Homo sapiens: one gene and its partner. The protein of the gene in region 2 interacts with the protein of the main gene of each other region in a pairwise test. Each region holds a gene or a part of one and is shown on either strand. Other genes may lie near its edges. The genes, in order: BMP2K and CLINT1.

Region 1 (11,183 bases), on a different chromosome or scaffold from region 2:
AGTCAGTAGCAACTTTTTTTTTCTGTGCCTGTATAAAAAAATAGACCATTAACATTCAACGGAAGAGAGTCTGTGATGCAGGCAAGAGAATGAAAAAATGGGTAATTGCCAGTGATGCATAATCCCACTCCCTAGAAAAATAGTCCTGACAAGATTCAGGAAAAAAAAAAATTACTTTAGTAGTAGTATCTTTATGATTCAGAAAGAATAGTAAAACCTAAACTAACCACTGACAATCTCATTCAAAAGAGAATACTTATGTATAAAGCTCCAGGCAGCCCTAACAATGGTCCAACCAGCAAAAATAAAGCAAAATAAGTAAATACAGCATTTAGGCAAGGGGAAATAGTGTACTGGAACCCTCTCTTCCAGAAATTGAAAGAAAGAATAGTCAAGGGTGGTTTGCTACCCTCTGACCTTTGGGCCAGGCTTACAAATTTCCTAATCTAAAAGCAAACTAAATGTCTTTCCACCTAGAAAATAAGTACCTTCAATATCATACAGTTCAGTTAGAGGAATCCCCAAAGTTAATGCTCATTTGTTTCCCTCCCCAGGAGCCTTAAGGAGATAAGATCCCCTTCTTCTTCCTAATACCCTCATCCTCTTAGACACCATTCATCCCATTGAGTGGTACTATCCGCCACTCAAGATAAAGCCATACACAGCTGACCACCCCCAAAACTGTTTTCTTAAGATCAGTTATCCAAAGCACATACTTTAGACTACCCAGCTCCCACTCTGTCTAACGGTAGTGGCTCAAGGGAATTCAGGCTAGAACATTTTGAGAGTCACATCAAATACAAGCAATGCAGTACCCACAAAACAAAGATGTACTATACATATAACCATAACAGAAATAAAACAGGCTAGGAGTCCAAAAATAAATCTGGTAGTATTTTTTCATCCATCTATTTAATGCTAGAACTACATTATTAACAAATATCTCTATCTCCTTATTTTAAAATGGACAGAACTTCAAAAACAGAGTCAGCCTTCTCCTAAATATCAACTGAACAGCTTGATATGTCAAATATGGCTGCTATCCAATTGTTTCATAGTAATTTGTAGCAAGCCCTCTGATCACTTTTGAATACCAAAACTCAACCTCTTACAGAGGTACTCAATACTATCATGAGTACAGCACTGCAAGAGATAAAAGACGAATACAAGGCCAAGCATGGTGCCTCACACCTGTAATCCCAGCACTTTGGGAGGCCAAAGCAGGAGGACCACTTGAGGCCAGGAGTTCAAAACCAGCCTGGATAACGTAACAAGATCCCATCTCTACCAAATATTTTAAAAATAATGAGAGGGAAAAAAAGAATGAATACAAGATAAGCCTTAAAAGAATTAAATTTTAAAGTAGAGAAAATTACGCATTTTATTAGAATAGAACAAAGCTATTTAAGATAAGTGCTATATGAGTAACAGTTGCTACGCAGAGCAAAGGAAGGCATAATTACACTTATTTGGTTGTAGATAGGGTTTCAGGAAAAAATAAAGATTACAAAAAAGTAACTATTTTAAATATATCCTACAAGACCCCATTTTTAACAGAGTGGTGGAGGCCAGTATTTGCATTCTGGGCAAACATAACAACATAAGCTAAAAAACAGAAATGGAGAAGTGTGGCAAGGTGGCACATGCCTATTGTCCCAACTGTCGGGAGGCTAAGGCAAGGGGACTGCTTGAGGCCAGTAGCTCAAGGCTGCAGTGAGCTATGATCACACCACTGCACTCCAGCCTAGCCAATAGAGACCGTGTCTCAAAACACACACACACACACACACACACACACACACACACACACACACACATTGGGTGGCTTATAAGCAACAGAATTTCTTACTGTTATGGAGACTGGGAAGTCCAAGAGCAAGGTGCTGGGAAATTCAGTGCCTGGAGAGGGCTTGTTTCCTCACAGATGGCCATCTTCTCACTCTAACCTTATGTAGTGCAAGGGATGAGGGATCTCTCTGGGGCCTCTTTTATAAGGGCATTAATTCCATTCATGAGGGCTCTCATGACCCAATCATTTCCCAAGGGCCCCATCACTAAATAGCATCACCTTGGGCGTTGGGATTTCAACATATGAATTGCGGGAGGAGTCACAAACATTCAGACGATAGCAGAAAGCTTGAGAGAAGTGCAGAAAATACCAAGCACATCAGTGTAATATAAGTAGGGAGTAAGAGTAAGAGATTAAGGCTGGAGAGGTAGGTTGGAGGTCATACTGAACTGGAGGTTCAGGTCAGGGGGTCCTGAATCCTAGAGTAACGAGTTTGTACTTTACTTGGTTAGGCAAGTAAGAGAGTGACATGAGCATAAGTCCATTTTAGGAAGAATAAACTGGAAGGAATACAAGAATTGGTTTGGCAAGGAAAGAGTCTGAAAGAACAGTCCAAATGCTAATATAATTCTCTAAACGAGATGTATTAAGGACCCAAATTAGGGCTGACAGCATTGGAAACAAAAGGTACCCAATTTCCCACACATATCAAGGGTAAACTTTGTATCTGTAAACTTCATCAGAGAAAGTACTGTCATACCTCCTCCTCATATATTCTTTTTGAATAAAAAGGTTTTGTTTTGTTACTAATACTCTCTAAAATACATATATTGTGCATGAGTCTCTTAGAGAACACAATCAAGATAGTAAAATAAGCAATTAAGGTGGCATGCCCACTGAAACTAAATAGTATTCTGAAATGTCACACAATTTAATTTGAGCTTCTACCCGGATCTCAAGGACTAGCATGTAAGGCAACTTCTTAGAAAAGACCTTTTTCCAATGATTAAAAAATAATTTTAGGCCGGGCGCAGTGGCTCATGACTGTAATCCCAGCACTTTGGGAAGCCAAGGTGGGCAGATCACCTGAGGTCAGAAGTTAAGAAACCAGCCTGGCCAACACGGTGAAGCCCTGTCTCTACTAAAAATACAAAAATTAGCCAGGTGTGGTGGCAAGAACCTGTAATCCCAGCTACTTGGGAGGCTGAGGCAGGAGAATCACTTGAACCCAGGAGGCAGAGGTTGCAGTGAACCACAACTGCAGCACTGCACTCCAGCCTGGGCAACAGAGCAAGACTCCGTCTTGAAAAAATAAAATAAAATAAAATAAAAATAATTTCATACTTTAGGATTAAAAAATAAATTGCCATTCCATTGTGAAGTCTGTCAAAGAACTCAAATTGTATAACGATCAAACACAATCCTTTCATTATGGTCTCAATCCTGAAATTGTTCATTGCTATTCCTCCCTGTCCCATGCTCCTCATTTATCTAAAAGAGCAGTTAAAATCAGTTACATAGACAGAATCCAAGAATACTAAAATGGAAAAAGATGTTACAAATTCATTTTTTCCACTTCATTTTTTTCTTGAGGAAACTGAAGTCAAAACGTCACAATGCAAGTTAGAGGCAGAACAGGGATTACCAGCTGGTATTTTTCCCCGATAGATGCGTCCAAGAAGGCACTATTTCAAAGATAATTAAAAATGTTAAAATGGGCAAACTAGTAACAACAATCATTCCATATTTTAAAATAATACTTACTGCAAAATGCCTCTAATGTTACTGCAATTCTACAAGACTAGGATAAACCAAAAACAAAGTCTCTCTGTAGAAAAGGCCTTACAACCACTTTCCTGCAGAGAGAGACTTTTGAAACAGTTAGCAGACATGTGCTGACTGACCTCATTTGTAAAGCTGATACACATAGACAAAGAATCTCCAAATTAACTAAGTGCCCAGCTATTTAAAACAGCTCAGTCATTAACCACTCAACTTCCCAACTTAGTCCCCTAAAAATAGCAGGCTGTGGGTAGATGAATGGTTCACCAGATGCATGCAAGATAAAACAAAGGAATAAACAGTCCCAATCTTTTGGAGATGAAATATTATACCCGACCACTAGAAAAGTGTGGCAGCTTTGAAATGGTAGTTCAAGACTCTTAACTTTGGAATCCCAAGTCAAGGCTTTAATCATTTTGATAACTACCAAATGAGCTCTATTGGATGTATATGAAACTACTTCAAGTTCTGACAAAAAAATAGGAGGGAAATGGTGAAAGAAAACCAAGATAATATACAAGATCAGAAAGAACACTATATAAGACCCAGGATCAACATAAGGACATCCGTCTCACTTTCTAGTACATTCTCTAACATTGACAACATCAAGGACCTTTTCCAAGTTTCCCTACTGTGCACCCCATGATGAAACATACTAACAAATATTAATTCATTTTCATTATTTTTAAAATATCGAAGACATAGCCTTTTCAATCTGCCCAGCATGAGAATGTCAGTATTAACCACAATAGTTGACTACAGCCTAAAAGCAAAGATATTTGGCATGTTTGTACAATTTAGCACTTTTATTTTTATTTATTATTTATTTATTTATTTATTTATTTTGAGACAGCGTCTTGCTGTGTCACCCAGGCTGGAGTGCAATGGCTCTATCTCACCTTACTGCAACCTCTGCCTCCTGGGCTCAAGGGATTCTCCTGCCTCAGCCTCATGAGTAGCTGTTATTATAGGCACGTGCCACTATGCCCGGCTAATATTTGTGTTTTTAGTAGAGATGGGGTTTCACCCTGTTGGCCAGGCTGGTCTCGAACTCCTGGCCTCAAGTGATCTACCTGTCTCAGCCTCCCAAAGTGCTGGGATTACAGGCGTGAGCCACCATGCCCATCCTGTACAATTTAGCACCTTTACTGGAGATAAATGCATTATAAATTTCCACTGTTTTTTTGGAATACTGAAAATTTAGAATAATTGTTTTAGTGTCAGTAGCTTGTCCTTGAATAAAACTACTACCTCTAGAGGAAATACATTAACGGACAATCAAAATTACATCCTAGGAGCTATCACTACAATAATAACATAAACAACCCAAAAAAGAACCATTTGTTAATATTGTATATAGTGTCCTTTGTTGCAAATAATTTCCATTTTATAGTGAAATCATATGCTACTATATAGGTCAAAATTTTATATAGCTGATTGAAACTTGAAAATTCAATATGGCTGAGGGACACATAATTATCTAACAAACTATTCAGATATTTTTCAAACACAAATGTGATACTTATTCAGGATAAATGTGATACCAAATATATAATAAAGTCACTATAATTTCCAAATCAGATTTCACTGAAAGCGTATAACCAAATCGGAACTTAAAAGTTCACTCATAGTTATGAAGAGATTTGGCAATGCACTGTCAGGTACTGTCACACATTATCTTCTCTAATCTTCATAATAGATATTAACTCCTTGTTTCAGAAGAGGAAACAATGTTTTCTAAGAGCTTAATTAAACAACAACAAAAAAGGGTGCTGAGTAAGTACTACTGGACAACTGAATGCACAGGTGAATAGACCTTGGTTCTACCCCCAAAAAGCTCAGCATCCAAAAAAAGCTGTCAAAATTAACCACAAAATGTAAAACAATTTCACAATTGCATGTAACATACTTTTTTAAAAACTCAGCCACCTTTGTAGAATAAATAAAAATACAATGTCAATAAAGCAAGATAACTACAAGGGGGCATCTGGGTTATTTTTTTTCTTTCCTGTTTCAAGTTGTTAAGTGAAATGACACTGCCTTAACGGTTGTTTGTCTTCACCAAACTAGAAAACACAGAGTCCTCTGGCCTAAGTACAAAACCTTTGATGGTCCAGTAAAGAGCCCTCCATTGGTGCTCTTCAATTTGCAAATTAGGCCTTAAATTCTACTGAAGATCATCATCTGATTAAAAATAAAAAAATCAAGCACCATTTCCTTTGAGAAGTAGCTGAATGTTCATGGTATGGCCAACTTGTGTGATACAACATCAATTAAAACAGAGTCTGTCTAGCCTTAAGAATTTTACTATCTGGTAGTGGAGATGACAGAGGAACAGTAGTTAACAACCTTAGTGTTTCTAGGTGCTTACATAATTCCATCTCAAGACAGGTTAAATGTGACAAGAGGGAAAAAAGCAAATAGTTACAAGTGTCCACAGAAAGGAGGAAGTGATCATAACCAGTACTTAGGAAACAGGGATTACAGAGACAAAGGCAGAGTGCTAGGCAAGTACAAGATTCAGTCACGGACCAACAGGGAGTGGAGCACATTGCACCAGGCGCAAAGAGTATTCACCTAGCAAATAATTACAGGTAAGCTTTTAAAGATAAGAAGTGAGCATGAATAACTGTGAATGCCAGGCGAAAAAATGTGATCAAGTAAGATGACTTTGCAGCAACACAACTGCTCACTCCCTCCCCTTCTTGAAATACTCTCAAGTTTCCAGGTATCAGAGTGTCCTGGTATTCCTCATACCTCTCTAGCACCTTCTTCTTAGTCTTCTTCGCCCGCTCGAAATCAGTGGTACTCGGTACTCAAGACGTGGTTCCTGAACCGGCAGCATCTGTATCACTGAAAGAGTGGGCCTCACTCAGACATAATCAAAAGTTGGGGACCAGGCTCAGCACTTCTGTTTTACCAAATCCTCTGAATGTTTACAATGAACACTAATGTCTGAGACCAATGCACTATAGGAGTCCTTCAATGAGCACCTTCTCATTCTACACTCTCCCTACATCCATCCTCTCCCAGGGCTTTAAATAACAGCCAGGGCTCACTAATCAATCAGAAGTACCATCTCTAAGCCCAAACACCTTTGCTGAGTTCCAGACGACATACCCAGCTTCCCATTTGATATTTCCTCTCAGATATCTCATCCAAACACATCTCTAAACATGTCTGAACTACTGGCTGTCCTCCAAACACCTCAAAAAAAAAAAAAAAAATCTGTTCCTTCCTTATGTTCCCAAACGGTACTTTCACCTGAGAGATACATAAGCAAGTAATTCCTAACACTTCCTATGACCACCACAAGGTCTTCCCATTTAAGCATTATCATCTTCATCCCCACTGTCATCATTTTAACCTTATAATTTGTATACCTCTCTATACAGCAATCAGCATGATCTTGTAAAAATACAAATCAGAGCATGTCACTGCCCCAATTCAAACCCTTCAATAGCTTCCTGTTGCATTTCAGATAAAACCTAAACTCCTCAGCATGGTATACTAAGCCCCGGACCCTGGTCACCTTGCCAACATCATCTTGGATCTCTCTTACATGTGATTCATTCATTGTAGTCCACAGCTCTGAGCATATTTCAGTTTCTGAAACTTCCTTCCCTCACACAGAGACTTCAGTCTTCATGACATACTTCAAATCACCCCAACCTCACACCTCTGTTTTTACCTAACTTTCTTCATCCTTCAGGTTTCTGCTAAAAGATCAAAAAGGCCTTCCTTGACCCCCCAGTCTAAACTGAATTCTCTCATAAAACCCTGAGCATTGTCTTCACGACACATATAAAAAATTTTAACTATAGTAACTTGGTGATTTTTGTTGGCTTGTTTAGCTTTTACCTTCCACACTAATCTGTAAGTTTCATAGGCCAGAAGAATACCTCCACTATTGTCCTCTACTATGTTAAGTAGCACCTAGCAGTGCTTAGCACACCAAAGGCATTTAATGAAGTTGTGTAGTAGTAACAGTTGTTGATATTTTTATTCGATCCTTCCCTTTTTTCTATCCTCTCTATCTTCTCTTCGGAATGTGAACTTACAAGTTACTGGGCAGCCACAGATGCTTTCTGCAAATGAGATATAATGCTTAAATCTATCATTTCCCTACTAATTTATAGTGCAAAATCAGATGTATAGTACAACCTTCCTGAAAAATTAACAACGAGAACTGGCTAATACTTAGCTTATCTAAGCATTTAACTCTAAGAGAAATACTGAGCTATTTTTAAAGAACCCTGTAGTAAATTCCTGGCCTCCAATTACTAACAATCCAATAACCCCCAACACCCATCTCAGTAAATCTTACCCACATCACCATATTCACACTATCATTCCTACCCAGCCCCCATAACCTCGTGATTACATTATCTCAACAAGTTATCTCTGCTCTCCCAGTCTCAACACCCCATTTTAGGTCCATTTTGTACCAAGGACATTTAGGGAAAACAATGTCCCCTACTCAAAAACCAACTTATTATCAATCAGTATTAAATTCCTCAGACTAGCACCAAAGGCTTGTTATGGTGATGCATGTGGTCAACAAGCCAACCCCAGGTTTTAGTAAAAACTTGGAAGGTTACATTGAATTAATTATATGAGCCTGACAATTTGTCACTGTTTGAAGCTAAAACCAACATACCGCTCTCCCTCATTTCTACAGACCAAAGCTGGGATCTGCTTAGTACAGACTCCTAAACATGTTTTTGAGAAAAAAAACATGAACTGCCTCACTATGTTATCAGTCCTTTAAACTTTGAGGAGGAACTAAAAAGGTGCAAGTTCTATTTTCAAACACTTATGTGCTTGACTACAAAGACATTATGATACAAAGTATATAATGTTTCAGAGAGAAAACTTTAACAGTTTAGTTATAACATACAACCTACCCCTGAGAATCTGCTTTTCAAATTATAGACATAATATGTGCATATACATATCTACCTATAACAAAGGTTGCTCCTCATTAGTTGAGGATACTATATTTACAAATTCATCTACTCACTAACATTTATTTGTATCCCCAAAATCATTACTCATAGCACTTCCACTGTCATTGCAGACATGTGCACAATGGTGAAAAATGTGAGTCTACTGACGTGCACATTCTAGTTTCAGCTTACATAGTGTAAACAAGTGTCCTTTTCATGGTCTATTTAGTGCCATGTTTTTCTCATTTTTGTGCTTGCTATTGGTGATTTCACTGTTGAAAACAGTCCCTAAGCGTAGTGCTAAAGTGCTGTCTAGTGTTCAAGGAGCAAAGACTACAGAGAAAATACAAGTGTGAGATAATCTTCATTGAGGCATGATTTACAGAGCTGTTGGCCATGATTTCAATGTTAATAAATCAACCAAATATATTAAATAAGGTGTATTTAAACTGCAACAGACATAAAACAAGGTTGTATCTTGATCAGTTGACAAAAATGTTGTGAACAGCAGCTTTCAGGAATCTAACACCATAGTAGGAGCAGTGGTTCAGTGTTTGCTAATCCAGTTTTCACGGTGACTTTTTGCAACATAACTAATTATATAAAAATAACAACAGAGAGACGGACGGATTTATTAAAAAGACACTGCAGAGGTCATTATGAGTAAACTACCAATGTTTGCAGGAGCATGGCAAAAACACTTCAGGGCACAGTATCTACTGAGTCTTCCTGGCTCTGTTTAAACAACTTTGGGCCAAAACAAAAAATGCAAAATCTACCAAGTCTGTGCTTTGGTCTATCTTAGCTTCTACCGCTTTGCCTACTCAGTGGTATCCCTCTCCCCAAATCAAGTACTCTAAACTTGAATGCATTTTCACAAGTACATGACCCAATCTTATGATCAGGCAGACCCATCAATTATTGATTAATCACGCTTAAATGCGAACTAGACTTGTGCTTAAACATCTTGTCTAAATTGTGGCACTATTTATTAGGAAGGGAGAGGGGATATTAAGCATCTGAAATAAGACCGGCCAGGATCAAAATTAAACTGATTATACATAGACAATTCCAGTTGTGTGGGTGATGGAGACAGAAAAAATACACAAGGAAAGAAAACCTAGGCCTTGGCCTCCCTTCTAGGAAATTAAAGCTGGGGTGTAGGATGGAGAAGTTTCATCTTCTAAAAGGATTTCTTCAGTCCTTGCTTCCTCCTAGCATTTGATTATTGACTTTTCAAGAGAAATGATACATTTATGGCAAAAGTCAGTGGAACACTCTAACAGTGACATTAGCGCTTGAAATAAACTTTTATTCTTCGTTGTGGTTGAACGAACTCTCCTTTTGAAATTCATCTTTATTACTTTCCAAAATTATTTTTTTATTGAAAATGGCTTGCTTAGGGTAGTGATAAGATATGCTTAGGGTAGTGAGTAATACAAGTTACAAATTCAAAATCTAATTTGTGAAATGTCAGTATTTTTTTTCTATTAAATAAAAGACCCATCTGGGATTTAGTGGAATGAGTGAGTGTAACACTACTCAAGCTACATTTCAATTAGTTACTAAAACAATTCAAAGACAGAATATGGCATTTGAGTGAAGAGCCATGTGCTTTTAAAACCTACAACACAATCTAAACCAATAATTGAAATTCATGTGTAATAAAGAGCTAGAAAACTTTATAGTATAGTAAATCTTTTATAAAGACCACTCACCACATATTCATTCTTCTGAAAAACTAAGGATCCTCCTTCTCCCACCTCTCCAAGTTTCGGCTAAGATCATTATTCTGAGCAATGGTTCACGAAACAATGATATGTACACTTGAATAATTCACGATTTCTTTCTCTTTCAAATATTTTATACAAAAATCTTCAGGTTTTTTCCCTTGTGCTAATTTACTGTTGTGTATAGCATTTCAAAAAATACAAGCGGAATCTCAGTCTACTGTTTTCAAACCACATCAACGTCTAACGCTCGGAGAACTGAATCCACTCTTCGATTTTTTTTATCTTAACCATAGAACTTAAAAGGGCCATTTATCAACAAAAAGTATTTCTTTTAAAGTGTTTATTTTGTAGTATCATTTTGCAACTAAAAACTCAAAGGCCAATGAAGCATGCAGCACACAGGGCAAGTATTTTCTACAAGGCAATTATGCCAGAAATACAAAACTAAATTCTAAGTTCTTCTTTTAAAATGGAGTAAACTTTTTTTGTAAGTAGACTTCTACCTGCCGTCATAACCTGTTCCAGATCATGAAGGACCGACCACAAAACCTCGTTAAGTGAAAGTTAACCTGCTTTTATATCACCTTTTAAACTACTATCAAAGAGACATACTGGGAGGGCATGAATAGCACCTTGTCCAACAGAGAAGATTCTAAATAACAAAGATAAATGGGCTCCAAGTTTACCTGCTCCTCAGTGCAACCTACTAACTGAATTTAGAGCAAAGGATCACCTCCAACACGCACACATGCACACAAATACATTGTTTTTCAACAGATGACTGAGCTGCAGCAAAGCCCAGCTTGACACCAGGGGCTGCAGGGTCCTATGCCCTGCAGCGCGGGTGGAGGCTTAGATGAAAAGGCCAACGCATGACACCCGTCTGAGCCACAGCTGGCAGAACGGAGCTTCAACCCTGTTCGATCTGAC
Region 2 (11,183 bases):
TGAACCACTTCCATCTGCCTTTCCAGGGCAGCAGGGAGGTTATTTAGTCACCAGCTGGGAACATGTATTTCCCAAAGCAATATTGTGAACAAGAAAATACAGGTAAACTAGACAGTACTTAAACGACAAATGGAAATTTTCTTTGACAAAAAAATTTAATCTAGATTACATTAAGACAAACTTTTGCATGAAGAATTTACACAACATTAAAGCAATGGCAAAGTGCAAAAAAAATGTAAATACATGACAAAGAATTATTATCTATAATACACAAGTTTTAGAATATCAATAAGGATGAATACTCCTAATAAATAAAGAACATGAATAGATAGTAACAACTGGCCTATAAAAATATGAAGTGTTCAAACTCAATCATCAATGCAAAATAAAATGAAATATTATTTTCTCTTTACCAAACTGAAAAAGCTTTAAAAGGTGCTATTGTACTACAAAATTTTGGAAAAATAAAAAAACTAATGTCTAGAAAACAAGGGATTAACTGGCTAAATTATAATATAGCCACCCAATGTAAGATTATAAAGCAATGAAAAGTACTATAAAAGAATACCAACTATCATAAGAAAATGGTCATGAGATCTTAGGTGAAAAGCAGTTTATCAAAATATATAAATAAATGACTAAAACCCAGAAAAACCCAAACAAATGAAAAGTCATATCTAAAAGCCTGAAAAAGATCTGCCACATAATAAATGCTTAAATAACTACATTAATGGAATATGTAGAAAATGTATTTTAAAAAGATATTCACCAGATTAATACTTTATGTGTCTAAATTATGGTAAATCACTTGTTTTCCACCAAATTGAATGTGCATTACTTTTAATAATCAGTGAAAAAGAGAATATACTGAAAAAATTTTATTTTCAGTAAACTTAGTTTAAAACTGGAGACAACCCCTACCCAAATGATAAGTTAGTGTACTAAGAATGGAACAAGGTGAGTATTTACATGTTCATGTAAATGTCTTCAACTAACTAGCGATTACTGGGTACAAAGCAGCAGGTTCAAATGTAAATGTAATACACATTTCGGATTTGATATACCTTAATCCTTTTAAATGTTTCTTTTTAACTTAAAAACATTCAAAATATATTGCAAGTCATTTAAGTTCTATCTGTATTGATTATGCTGAATTTTCTCAACCTTATTTATTGTACTAGAAATATCTAGTTTAACAGTATGTTAATCAAGACCTAAATTTCTTAATTACAAAGGGACAAAAGAGACAAGTTGGACTTCTTTTTAAAGAGGTGAGATAAACTAAAAAAAGAAATGGGACAGTTTTTGGCATTCTATTTCTAATTGGCTTATTTTCTAAATATAGTCACACATTTCTCAATGACAGAATGCATTGGGGCATTAGGCAATTTTGTCATTGTGCAAACATCATAGAGGGTACTTACACAAACCTAGTTAGCCTACTACATACCTAGGCTATAAGGTATAGCCTATTACTCCTTGACTTCAAATCTGTACATCATGTCACTATACTGGATACTGTAGGCAACTGTAACACAATAGAAAGTGTTTGTATATCTAAACATAAGAAAGGTACGGTAGAAATATAGTATTGTATATGGGACCATGGTCACATACTATGCAGTCCATGACTGTACTTTAAATTATTTTTCATTTCTTAAAATGTTTACTTAGAAATGTACTTTATGTAAAAGCAACTGAAACACCATGTGAGTACAGGTTTTAAAAGAATATCACCACAAGGGGACATTTTATTAAGATATGAGATAGTCTCAAGTAAATCCTGATAGTTAGGTTTTACATATATATTTTTAAACTTGGTAAGATATTCTACAATGATTTTACCATATATACTTTTGAGAATGCTAAGAACATGTAATCACACACACACAAAAATCTGAACATTTTCTCAGAGGATATATTTAGCTGGTGAGTGGTACAGATGCCATATCTGCTTAGCTTTACAGTTTGTGCCCACATTACTTGCATGATGGTACTATTATAAATATGGGCACATCTGGTAAATGACACCCAAATGACATACCAAATAGCAATGTTAATATGGTAGATTCTTATACCTTCTCGTGTAAGTGCTAAAGATTTAATGCCCAATTTCCTTTCACTGCTGAATTCAATTTAAAATATATTATTAAAATATTTAAATAGAGATTGGGAGTAACTAAATTTATGTACTGATTGAAGAGGGAGCTGCACAAACTGGTTAAACATACGGTTTCAAATAGGAGATAACTTTAATTTTAAAAAATTCTTCTAATATCAATCTCTATTAGTTGCTTTTTATTAAGATAAAATAAAATTTAAGGCAAGAAACCTCCTAGATTTCATTCAAACTTTCTCAGTTACTATATTAATATCAATTGCTACTTCTATTTAATTAGTCAAACTACTGTTTGCACTGGAGAAGACAAACCACTCAAAGGTTCCTTGCCAAGTAAAGGAAGCATGTTGGTATTTAATAAATCTCTCTGTTCAAAGCAATCTTGATGTCACAGAGGAAAAGTTACATCCACCCATCTGACCTTCCTAGTTAATTCTTCTCTGATTGCTCCATTAAAACTTTTCACAGATGCATGAAAGGGGCCCTTTAAATATTTCATGCCAGGAAGTCCAAAATAGTTGATATTCTGTGACACTATATCTGTATTATATGACTACATGCTAACTACCAGTTAATTCTACAGTTCAAATCTTAAACATATAAAAATATATCACATAAATTGTTACACAACTAATGTAGCTGTCCGTAACCTTGGGCATTACAGTCCAATCAAGTTTAATGAATAATTTTAGGAACAGTTTGCAGTTACAGAAAAACGGGAAAGGGAATTGAAGAATTTCAGAAAGTAGGCTGGCCAGGCATGGTGGCTCACGCCTGTAATCCCAGCACTTTGGGAGGCCAAAACAGGTGGATCACCTGAGGTCAGGAGTTTGAGACCAAGCTGGCCAACATGGAGAAACCCTGTCTCTACTAAAAATACAAAAATCAGCCGGGCGTGGTGGCGCATGCCTGAAATTCCAGCTACTCAGGAGACTGAGGCAGGAGAATCGCTTGAACCCGGGAGGCAGAGGTTGCAGTGAGTCAAGACTGTGTACTGCACTCCAGCCTGGGCAACAAGGGCGAAACTCTGTCTCAAAAAAAAAAATAGAGAAAGAAAGTAGGTCAAACCAGATGTCTGGGCTGGGTGCAGTGGCTCACACCTGTAATCCCAGCACTTCGGGAGGCTGAGGCAGGCAGATCACCTGAGGTCAGGAGTTCGAGACCAGCCTGGCCAACACAGTGAAACTCCGTCTCTACTAAATATACAAAAATTAGCCAGGCATGGTGGCAGGTGACTGTAATCCCAGCTACTCGAGAAGCTTAGGCAAGAGAATTGCTTGAATAAAGTTCATGCCTAATCCAAGAATTTTAACATAGTAGGTAAGGAGGAGGAAATAATAGGGGGCTTTATATTACATTAATTATACTAAACTATCAGTGAAAAGTAATTTCCAGCATAGACTTACACTTAAAGGTTAAGTTAAAGTTTTTTTTTTTTTGAGACAAGAGTCTTGCTCTGTCACTCCAGCTGGAGTGTAGTGGCATGATCTCAGCTCATTGCAAACTCCACCTCCTGGGTTCAAGCGATTCTCCTGCCTTAGTCTCCTGAGTAGCGGGGATTAAAGGTGCCCATCACCACGCCAAACTAATTTTTGTAGTTTTAGTAGAGACAGGGTTTCACCATGTTGGCCATGCTGGTCTTGAACTCCTGACCTCAGGTGATCCGCCTGCCTCGGCCTCCCAAAGTGCTGGGATTACAGGTGTGAGCCACTGTGCACAGCCACAATTCGGCTTTGAAAAATCATTACACACAACTGGGAATAATAAATTTACTTTGCACATTAGTCATACCCCCATCTTACTGTCTACATTTTAATGTGAAATGAACTTAGGCTTGGAAAGACTGTCTTTAAACAGAAGATGTATTTGTTAAACTATTTTGACACGTCACACAATAGTTTATTAAAACTCCATAATCATCAAATACAACCCTAAAAATATCAATTTTCTTGAAAACAATTGATCAGAAATTACTCAAAATCTAGCACATACTGGAAATCAAACTGAAGAAATCATCAATCTCATCTATGAGAAATTCAAGGTAAACAGTTCTTTTGCTGTAGCCCTCTCTTTTTTTTTTTTTTTTCCGAGATGGAGTTTTTCACTGTTGTTGCCCAGGCTGGAGTGCAATGGCGCAATCTCCGTTCACTGCAACCTCCGCCTCCCGGGTTCAAGTGATTCTCCTGCCTCAGCCTCCCGAGTAGCTGGGATTACAGGTACCTGCCACCATACCCGGCTAATTTTTGTATTTTCAGTAGAGACAGGGTATCACCATGTTGGCCAGGCTGGTCTCGAACTCCTGATCTCAGGTGATCCACCTCCCTCGGCCTCCCAAAGTGCTGGGATTACAGGGGTCAGCCACCACGCCCAGCCGCCCTCTTTAAATATGTTTGGTAGTTACATACTTTCAGAGAATGTCATTCCTCTGACTGAAGCACTTGCCATTGTTTATCACTAGATAACTATTTGTGACTCTGATTAATGATTATTTTCTCCACTTGACCTTCGCATGAGGACAACAACTCTGTTTTTTACAAGCACCCAGATCAGTGTCTGGTTCAACAAATATTTGTTCAATTAAAAGAATAAAAAGTTAAATGATCTCTAGGCATGCCCAAGGTGACAGCTGCAATTAAAATTTAGGGAAAGACAGTAAAATGCGCAGAGCAGTACCTTTTGCTTATAAAGAAAGTAAAGGCAACAGTTTAAATGCAATTTTTTGTTTCTCCAAGTTAATCTTAAAAATTAAAAATGGAAACTATAGATTCCAAAATCTATGATGAAAAATTTCAGAAAGTACATGATGCCTTGAAATACTATTTATTATTAATTAGGGAAGACACAGTACATCAGGTATGAGGAGTCATTAAAATCTAAGTATGATAATGATTTGAGGATACTATTATTAACCACCAATAAGTACTGACCACAAACAAAGTTTTGCTAGTCTGAGGGTGGGTCAGAAAAAGGTATAAAATAGGGATAGAGAAATGGGTGTACATATAAAAAGATAAGCAAAAATAACACAATGATTCCAAATAATGCTCAAGACTCACTAATTTCATATAAAAAATGAACCCAATGCAAATAAGTAATCTTATTTTTCAATCTATCTTTTATTTGGCATTTTAAAAAATGACTCTCAAACCAAAAGAAAAGGCCAATGTAGAAGCTTACCTGTTGACTGGCTGGTGCCATCAAACAGATCAACAAGGTCACCAGATGACTTGCTGCTAGGCACTGAAGTCTGAAAACACACACATAACTCAGGAGCTTCGAAAAGTTTGTTTTTCTAAAAATCAGCTCTATCCATCTCTAATTCTCAATTTAGACATAAATACCTGTAATTAGCTTAATAAGGGTAGGGTTTTCTGGAAAAAGAGTACTGACCTTGAATCCTTATGGAGAGGCAGCAAGCACTTTTAAGTACCTCCATTCCCAGCAGTGTAAAAGTCTCTTAACATTGACACTTTTTTTCCTACCTCACTTTTCTGACTGCATTTCACTCTGGAAAATATTAACTGCCAGATCCCACTTGAATCTTAATGCTAAGTATCAGTTCATTAAAAAAAAAAAAAAAAAAAAATACCCTAGCATATGTACCAGTCCCATACAATACACTGAGTCATAATTGCCCAGGTATAAAAAGGCCAAGACCTTGGCCTGTTAAAGTCTTACAAGAAAGCTCCCTAGATAATTCCAAGGCTTGAGATCCACTGGATTAGAGGTCAAGATCCTAAACAGCTCTAAATTTCTATGAACCTTAGCAAAACTTATTGTTTGTATATCACACAAGTTAGTATAATTCTATGTTATTTGATATATTGATATGTTTCATATTTAGTTCCCCAACTAAACTGAGGCCTATACCTGTAATACTATTTTTATCTTCTCCACAAAGCTAAGCACCCTGATACCTAAATACCTATGTCCTATATGTTAGATATATACATGCTAAATTAGAACTCAATTATTAGGCAATGGGGAAACCCTAAGATCCTAGGCATGTTGATTTGAACTTTGAAAACTAAAATACTATATACTGTGATTCCAAAACACCTTTAAGAACAGATCCAAATGAGTTGGGTAACTTTCTAAGAACTTCAACCTTCTAGACATTTTTTTTGAGGGGAGGAGGGTAAATGAAAACAAAAAAGAAAAAGCTTGTACTGCCGGGCGCGGTGGCTCAAGCCTGTAATCCCAACACTTTGGGAGGCCGAAGCAGGTGGATCACTTGAGGTCGGGAGTTCGAGACTAGCCTGACCAACATGGAGAAAGCCCGTCTCTACTAAAAATACAAAAAAATTAGCCGGGCATGGTGGTGCATGCCTGTAATCTCAGCTACTCGGGAGGCTGAGGCAGGAGAATCACTTGAACCTGGGAAGCAGAGGTTGCGGTGAGCCAAGATCGCGCCATTGCACTCTAGCCTGGGCAACAAGAGCGAAACTCGGTCTTCCAAAAAAAGAAAAAGAAAAAGAAAAAGCTTGTACTACAAATATAAAATATTTATTGCAGAGTGTCATATATTCAGGCTATACTACAAACTGTTATTTAAAATCCTTTAAGATATGTGATAAAAGTCTCTATTATTAAAAAAATTATACAGATATTTGGCAAAAGCTGACATGGTATTTGTTATTGCAACTAAGCAGGCCTGGTTTTATTTTCAGAGTCACCTACAATCTGCTGCATACATTAGAAAACTGTTTTTCCCAGCTTTTAGCTATTTCTCTTGCAAAGACACAAACTGGGGAAACAGTAGTCGGGGAAAGTGACAAAAACAATAATTTAGTCTTTTGAGGCAAATCTCCCTATTTGGCAGATTTCTGTTGAAAAGACTAGGGTTTGGCCAGGTACCTAGCAGGTGGATTTCATCTCTATGGTAAATAAAAACAAACGAAGATGGTACAAGAGGCAGTGCTTCTTTTGATACTGATCAGTAATGACTGTGAGGCAAACACGCCTCCCTTTATAGGCAACGTTTCTACATTACATGAGATAACTTGCCCCTATATATCTCTTCTTACTCCCTCGTTTGTCATTTCTTAAAACTTTCAAATACTTCCAATGTTTTCTTTAGTGAATCTACTTGTGGTTGGTAACCAGTATTGTCTAGATGGGGACAGAGGCACTACATTCTGATTCACAACCTTCCCCAAACAAACCAAAAGTGTCATTTCTACTTTCATAGAAAGTACCCAATCATTCAGCAATTGGACAGGTTTCTCCCCTCAAAGAGATTTCTTATTATTAATGTCTCTTGGTAATACATGCCAGATGATCCATAATTAATATGATTGCCTAGAAATGCCCAAGCCTACTAATGCAGGAATTCGAAGAGCGGTTTATAAAAATAAAACCATGTATAATGTGTAAACTACTGCCATTCCCACCTTAACTGAAGACTGAGGTGTGTGGGTTGAAGCATTCTGATCTGGACTTGCTTTGTCCCCTGTGTAATGTGCTGCTGCTCCAAGATCAATGGTTTTGGAAGGATTTGCTGTGCGCTTGTGTCTGGTTGTGGTGGTCTCTGTGGCCTGTGTGATATGAATATGCTTTGTCGTCACAGTCTCCTCTTCATCTTTGAATTCACCTTTGGGAGATCTGCCTCTTCTCGCTTTCTTTTCCTCATCGCTGTCGCTAAAAGATATTAAAAATGAAGCAAAATAATAAGACGGGATTATTTTAAAATGGGTCCCTCAGTGATTTGAGCTAAAGAATTTCAAATACAGTAACTCCAAAATTTCATACTTTGACTACTTGACAGGGATCAACAGAATGTTATCTAAGCTGTCTGAATAATGATATATGTGCGCTGGGGAGGGGAAGTGGAAACACAGAGAATATCCTATATAAGTCTAAAATACTGCTACAAAAAAGTATTTACATAAATGTGTATAAATAAAAAATGTCAAAATAACTCGTTTTTATTACAGATTTAAGCTTAACTTAAAAATAAAATAGGATTTGATATCAGAATCCATGATAAGACCCTGAGAGTTCAAACACTTGCATGTGATGATTATTTTCTTGACATGGACTGTGTGCAAATTACTATAGTTCCACTTTTACAACACAATTCTGCATCAACTCTCAAAGACTAATGTGTGTACATAATAAAATAATAAAAGTTCAATGGATGCTAAAAAAATCACACATCTTAATTCGAATAATTAAACTCATCTGTAAATGCATGAAAATATAAGGGAATGCACTTTACAACTGTGCTATTTTACTATAGTATCAGGAGATCAAACTTTTATATAACTATAGAAAATGCTTTCTAGAAAACAACTGTATTTAAAATATTTTAAAGATAATTCTCCTTCAGCCACATTCAACAATTTTTTCTTTCCTTTTTCTTTAATAGTGAAAAAGATTTTAAAAACTAAACAGTAAAAGCCTGGGTTTTTCATATGCTAGGAATGAAAATATCAGCCCTAGTCTGTTCTCTAGTAACAAGTCATTGGGTTTTTTTCTGATGTAAGTAGGAGAGAGAGAGAGAGAGAGAGAGAGAGCGAAAGAGAGAGAAAGAGAGAAATGTTACTTGAAACATGTTCCATTACCTGTATTACTTAATTTTAGAGTAGGTGGTTTAATTTATAAATATTCTGGAATATAATGTTTAAAATTCTCCTTTAAACTGCTGATGCAATTTACCTCAGACTGAACTATAGCAACTTGTACTTAAATATAAACCAATCTGGAACTTGTATAAATCAAAGATCAAAAAGAATGACTTCCCACACAGAGCAAAGGGGTTAAATATATTTTTATATATAAACATTTTAAGGAACCTACAAGTTCTGATACGCATTCAAAAGCCCTTACTAACTTCTCAACAACAAATGACCTGAAGATTCCCATTAGTCCTACAAGTAAAACTGAAATTTCTTACTTTTTTGGTGTCCAATTTTATTTCAGCGCAAAATAATTTATTCACAAGTTGAAAATATAAATCTGACTAGCACACGATGAAATGGAAGCTCCATATCTGATCAATGTTCAAGAATTCCTGAATGTAATAGTGAACTAATAAGTATGAAATTCAGGTAACATGCCATCAGGATTGAGGTCATATGCAACTCTGTCAAAAAATCTACTCTTCTCTCACAAATACTTTAAGATAAAAAGTTCCTGGTGTGCCCTATCATTATCACGATAAATCATGTTCACTGCATTTTCACTCTTTTAAACCTAAATACTCCTTAAAGATTTAGAAACTCTAGGAGATCCTGTCTTAGAGGCAACATAAAAAATAAAAATCATGGGAGAAACAGAAATAAAAGAAGAGTAGAGAGACAAAGAAAAGAAAAACTAAGGATAGAAGGGCAAAGGAGAGAAAGTAACAATACAGAACACACACAGATATCTAACCAGCCTACATAGCGTTATTGTTTATAAGTAAAACCTAAGACCCAACCAGACTGTGTGGATCTGCCTAAAGTAACACAGTTAGTGGTGGAACTGAGCCTGCCCTGAAATGTCTCTTTTTCAAGACTGTTTGAAAAACTGGAATGTGATCTTTGAAGAGCTAGAACTTATTTTTAGCACTTTGAATAAATCTATTTTACAAGTATATATCTAGCTTTTTTATACTGAAAAAGGATGCATATGATAATTATAAATACTAAACATTGGGAGGGAAATGGTGCCCACTTCAAATATACAGAGCTGTTTCCCTCATTAATGTTTTTGTGGCCTGTGTAAGTTTTGGCTTGGTTTGGAAAACATTATTGAAATTATGGCCATTATTCTGTTGGTATTTCCTGAACAGGCATTCCAGGGATTTAAAAGATATGAAAACATCCTAAAAATACACTAATTAGATTGTATTTTTGTTTGGACCTCTTTTTAATGATCCCTAATTCTGAACTATTAGGATTTTTGGCGCAGGGTAAAGAAAAAGAGATGGCATTTAGTTACGAGAACTCACTTGAAGGCTTGGTTCCATCACTAACTGTGTTATTTAGGCAAGTCCACACAGTGTGACTGGGTTTTAGGTTTTACTTATAAACAACAAAGACAAAATTCTTATTCTACTCTAGTAGAGATATTGTGAGGCACAAATGATAAAGGTCAAATTTAAAAAGTAAAATTTGCTCTGTAAATTAAGTGCTATATGCATTACCCTTTACATTCTCAGAAAAATTGGTTTATAATAATATTGGTAAGTAAGAACAAAAGTGACTGCTGCAAAGCTCAAAGTATTGTTCCATGTAAAACTAAATACCATCAGAAAATGTAGTTTATAAAAATACAGCTCTATTCTCAAAAACTGGTTCAAAATCCATTTGGATTGTTTTTCTGGTACACACTGGCACAGAATCATAATGAAATGTCAAGGAAGCATTAAATTTCAAATCCTTTGACTTATGTTTAATTAAACTTAATATATAAACTTCATTATCCCTCAGTATCTTAGGTCCCTGGATCATCTAAGGTCCAAATGCAAAATAATCTATACAAGTTTTTACTGGGGAAAAAAATCCAAGGAAAGACTACTAGCTTGAATAAAAATACACAGGATCAACTTCAAAAATAAGTAGACAGAGGCAACATGGAAAGTATGTCAATACTAATTGCAAGTAGTGTATAACCTAGTATCTTAAAAATAGTTGCACAGTGCTTGCTTCAGCAGCATATGTACTAAAACCAGAACAATACAGGGAAGATTAGCATGCCCCCTGTGCAAGGATAACTTGCACATTTAAGACTTGTTCCACATTTCTGCACAGGGCATATTTATGGCAGTGAAACTATTCTATACAATACAGTAATGAGGAATATTATGCATTTGTCGAAACCCATAGAAGTGTACAATATAGGAAACCCCAACGTAAACTACAGACTTTAGTTAATAAGTGTATCCATACTGGCTTTTCAATTGTTAACAAATGCACCATAGTAATGCAAGATGTTCACAGAACCTGTTATGAAGGGGAAGTGGGTATATGACAACTCTGTACTTTATGCACAATTTTTCTGTGAGCTTAAATTGCTCTAAAAACAAATGAAGTCTATTAAAAAAAAAAAAAAAGGCCCAATTTCAGATAATGTTAAT

Evidence for each region.
Region 1: the proteins of CLINT1 (region 2) and BMP2K interact in binary tests that used the Homo sapiens proteins (3 or more experiments, as listed by UniProt).

What each region holds. Positions count from the first base shown.
Region 1 is NC_000004.12:78,777,040-78,788,222, reverse strand, and holds part of BMP2K (BMP-2-inducible protein kinase), read right to left. Parts: intron 11,139-11,183; exon of another isoform or gene 6,329-11,138; intron 1-6,328. UniProt on the Homo sapiens protein: May be involved in osteoblast differentiation.
Region 2 is NC_000005.10:157,798,354-157,809,536, forward strand, and holds part of CLINT1 (clathrin interactor 1), read right to left. Parts: intron 7,760-11,183; coding exon 7,513-7,759; intron 5,367-7,512; coding exon 5,297-5,366; intron 1-5,296. UniProt on the Homo sapiens protein: Binds to membranes enriched in phosphatidylinositol 4,5-bisphosphate (PtdIns(4,5)P2). May have a role in transport via clathrin-coated vesicles from the trans-Golgi network to endosomes. Stimulates clathrin assembly.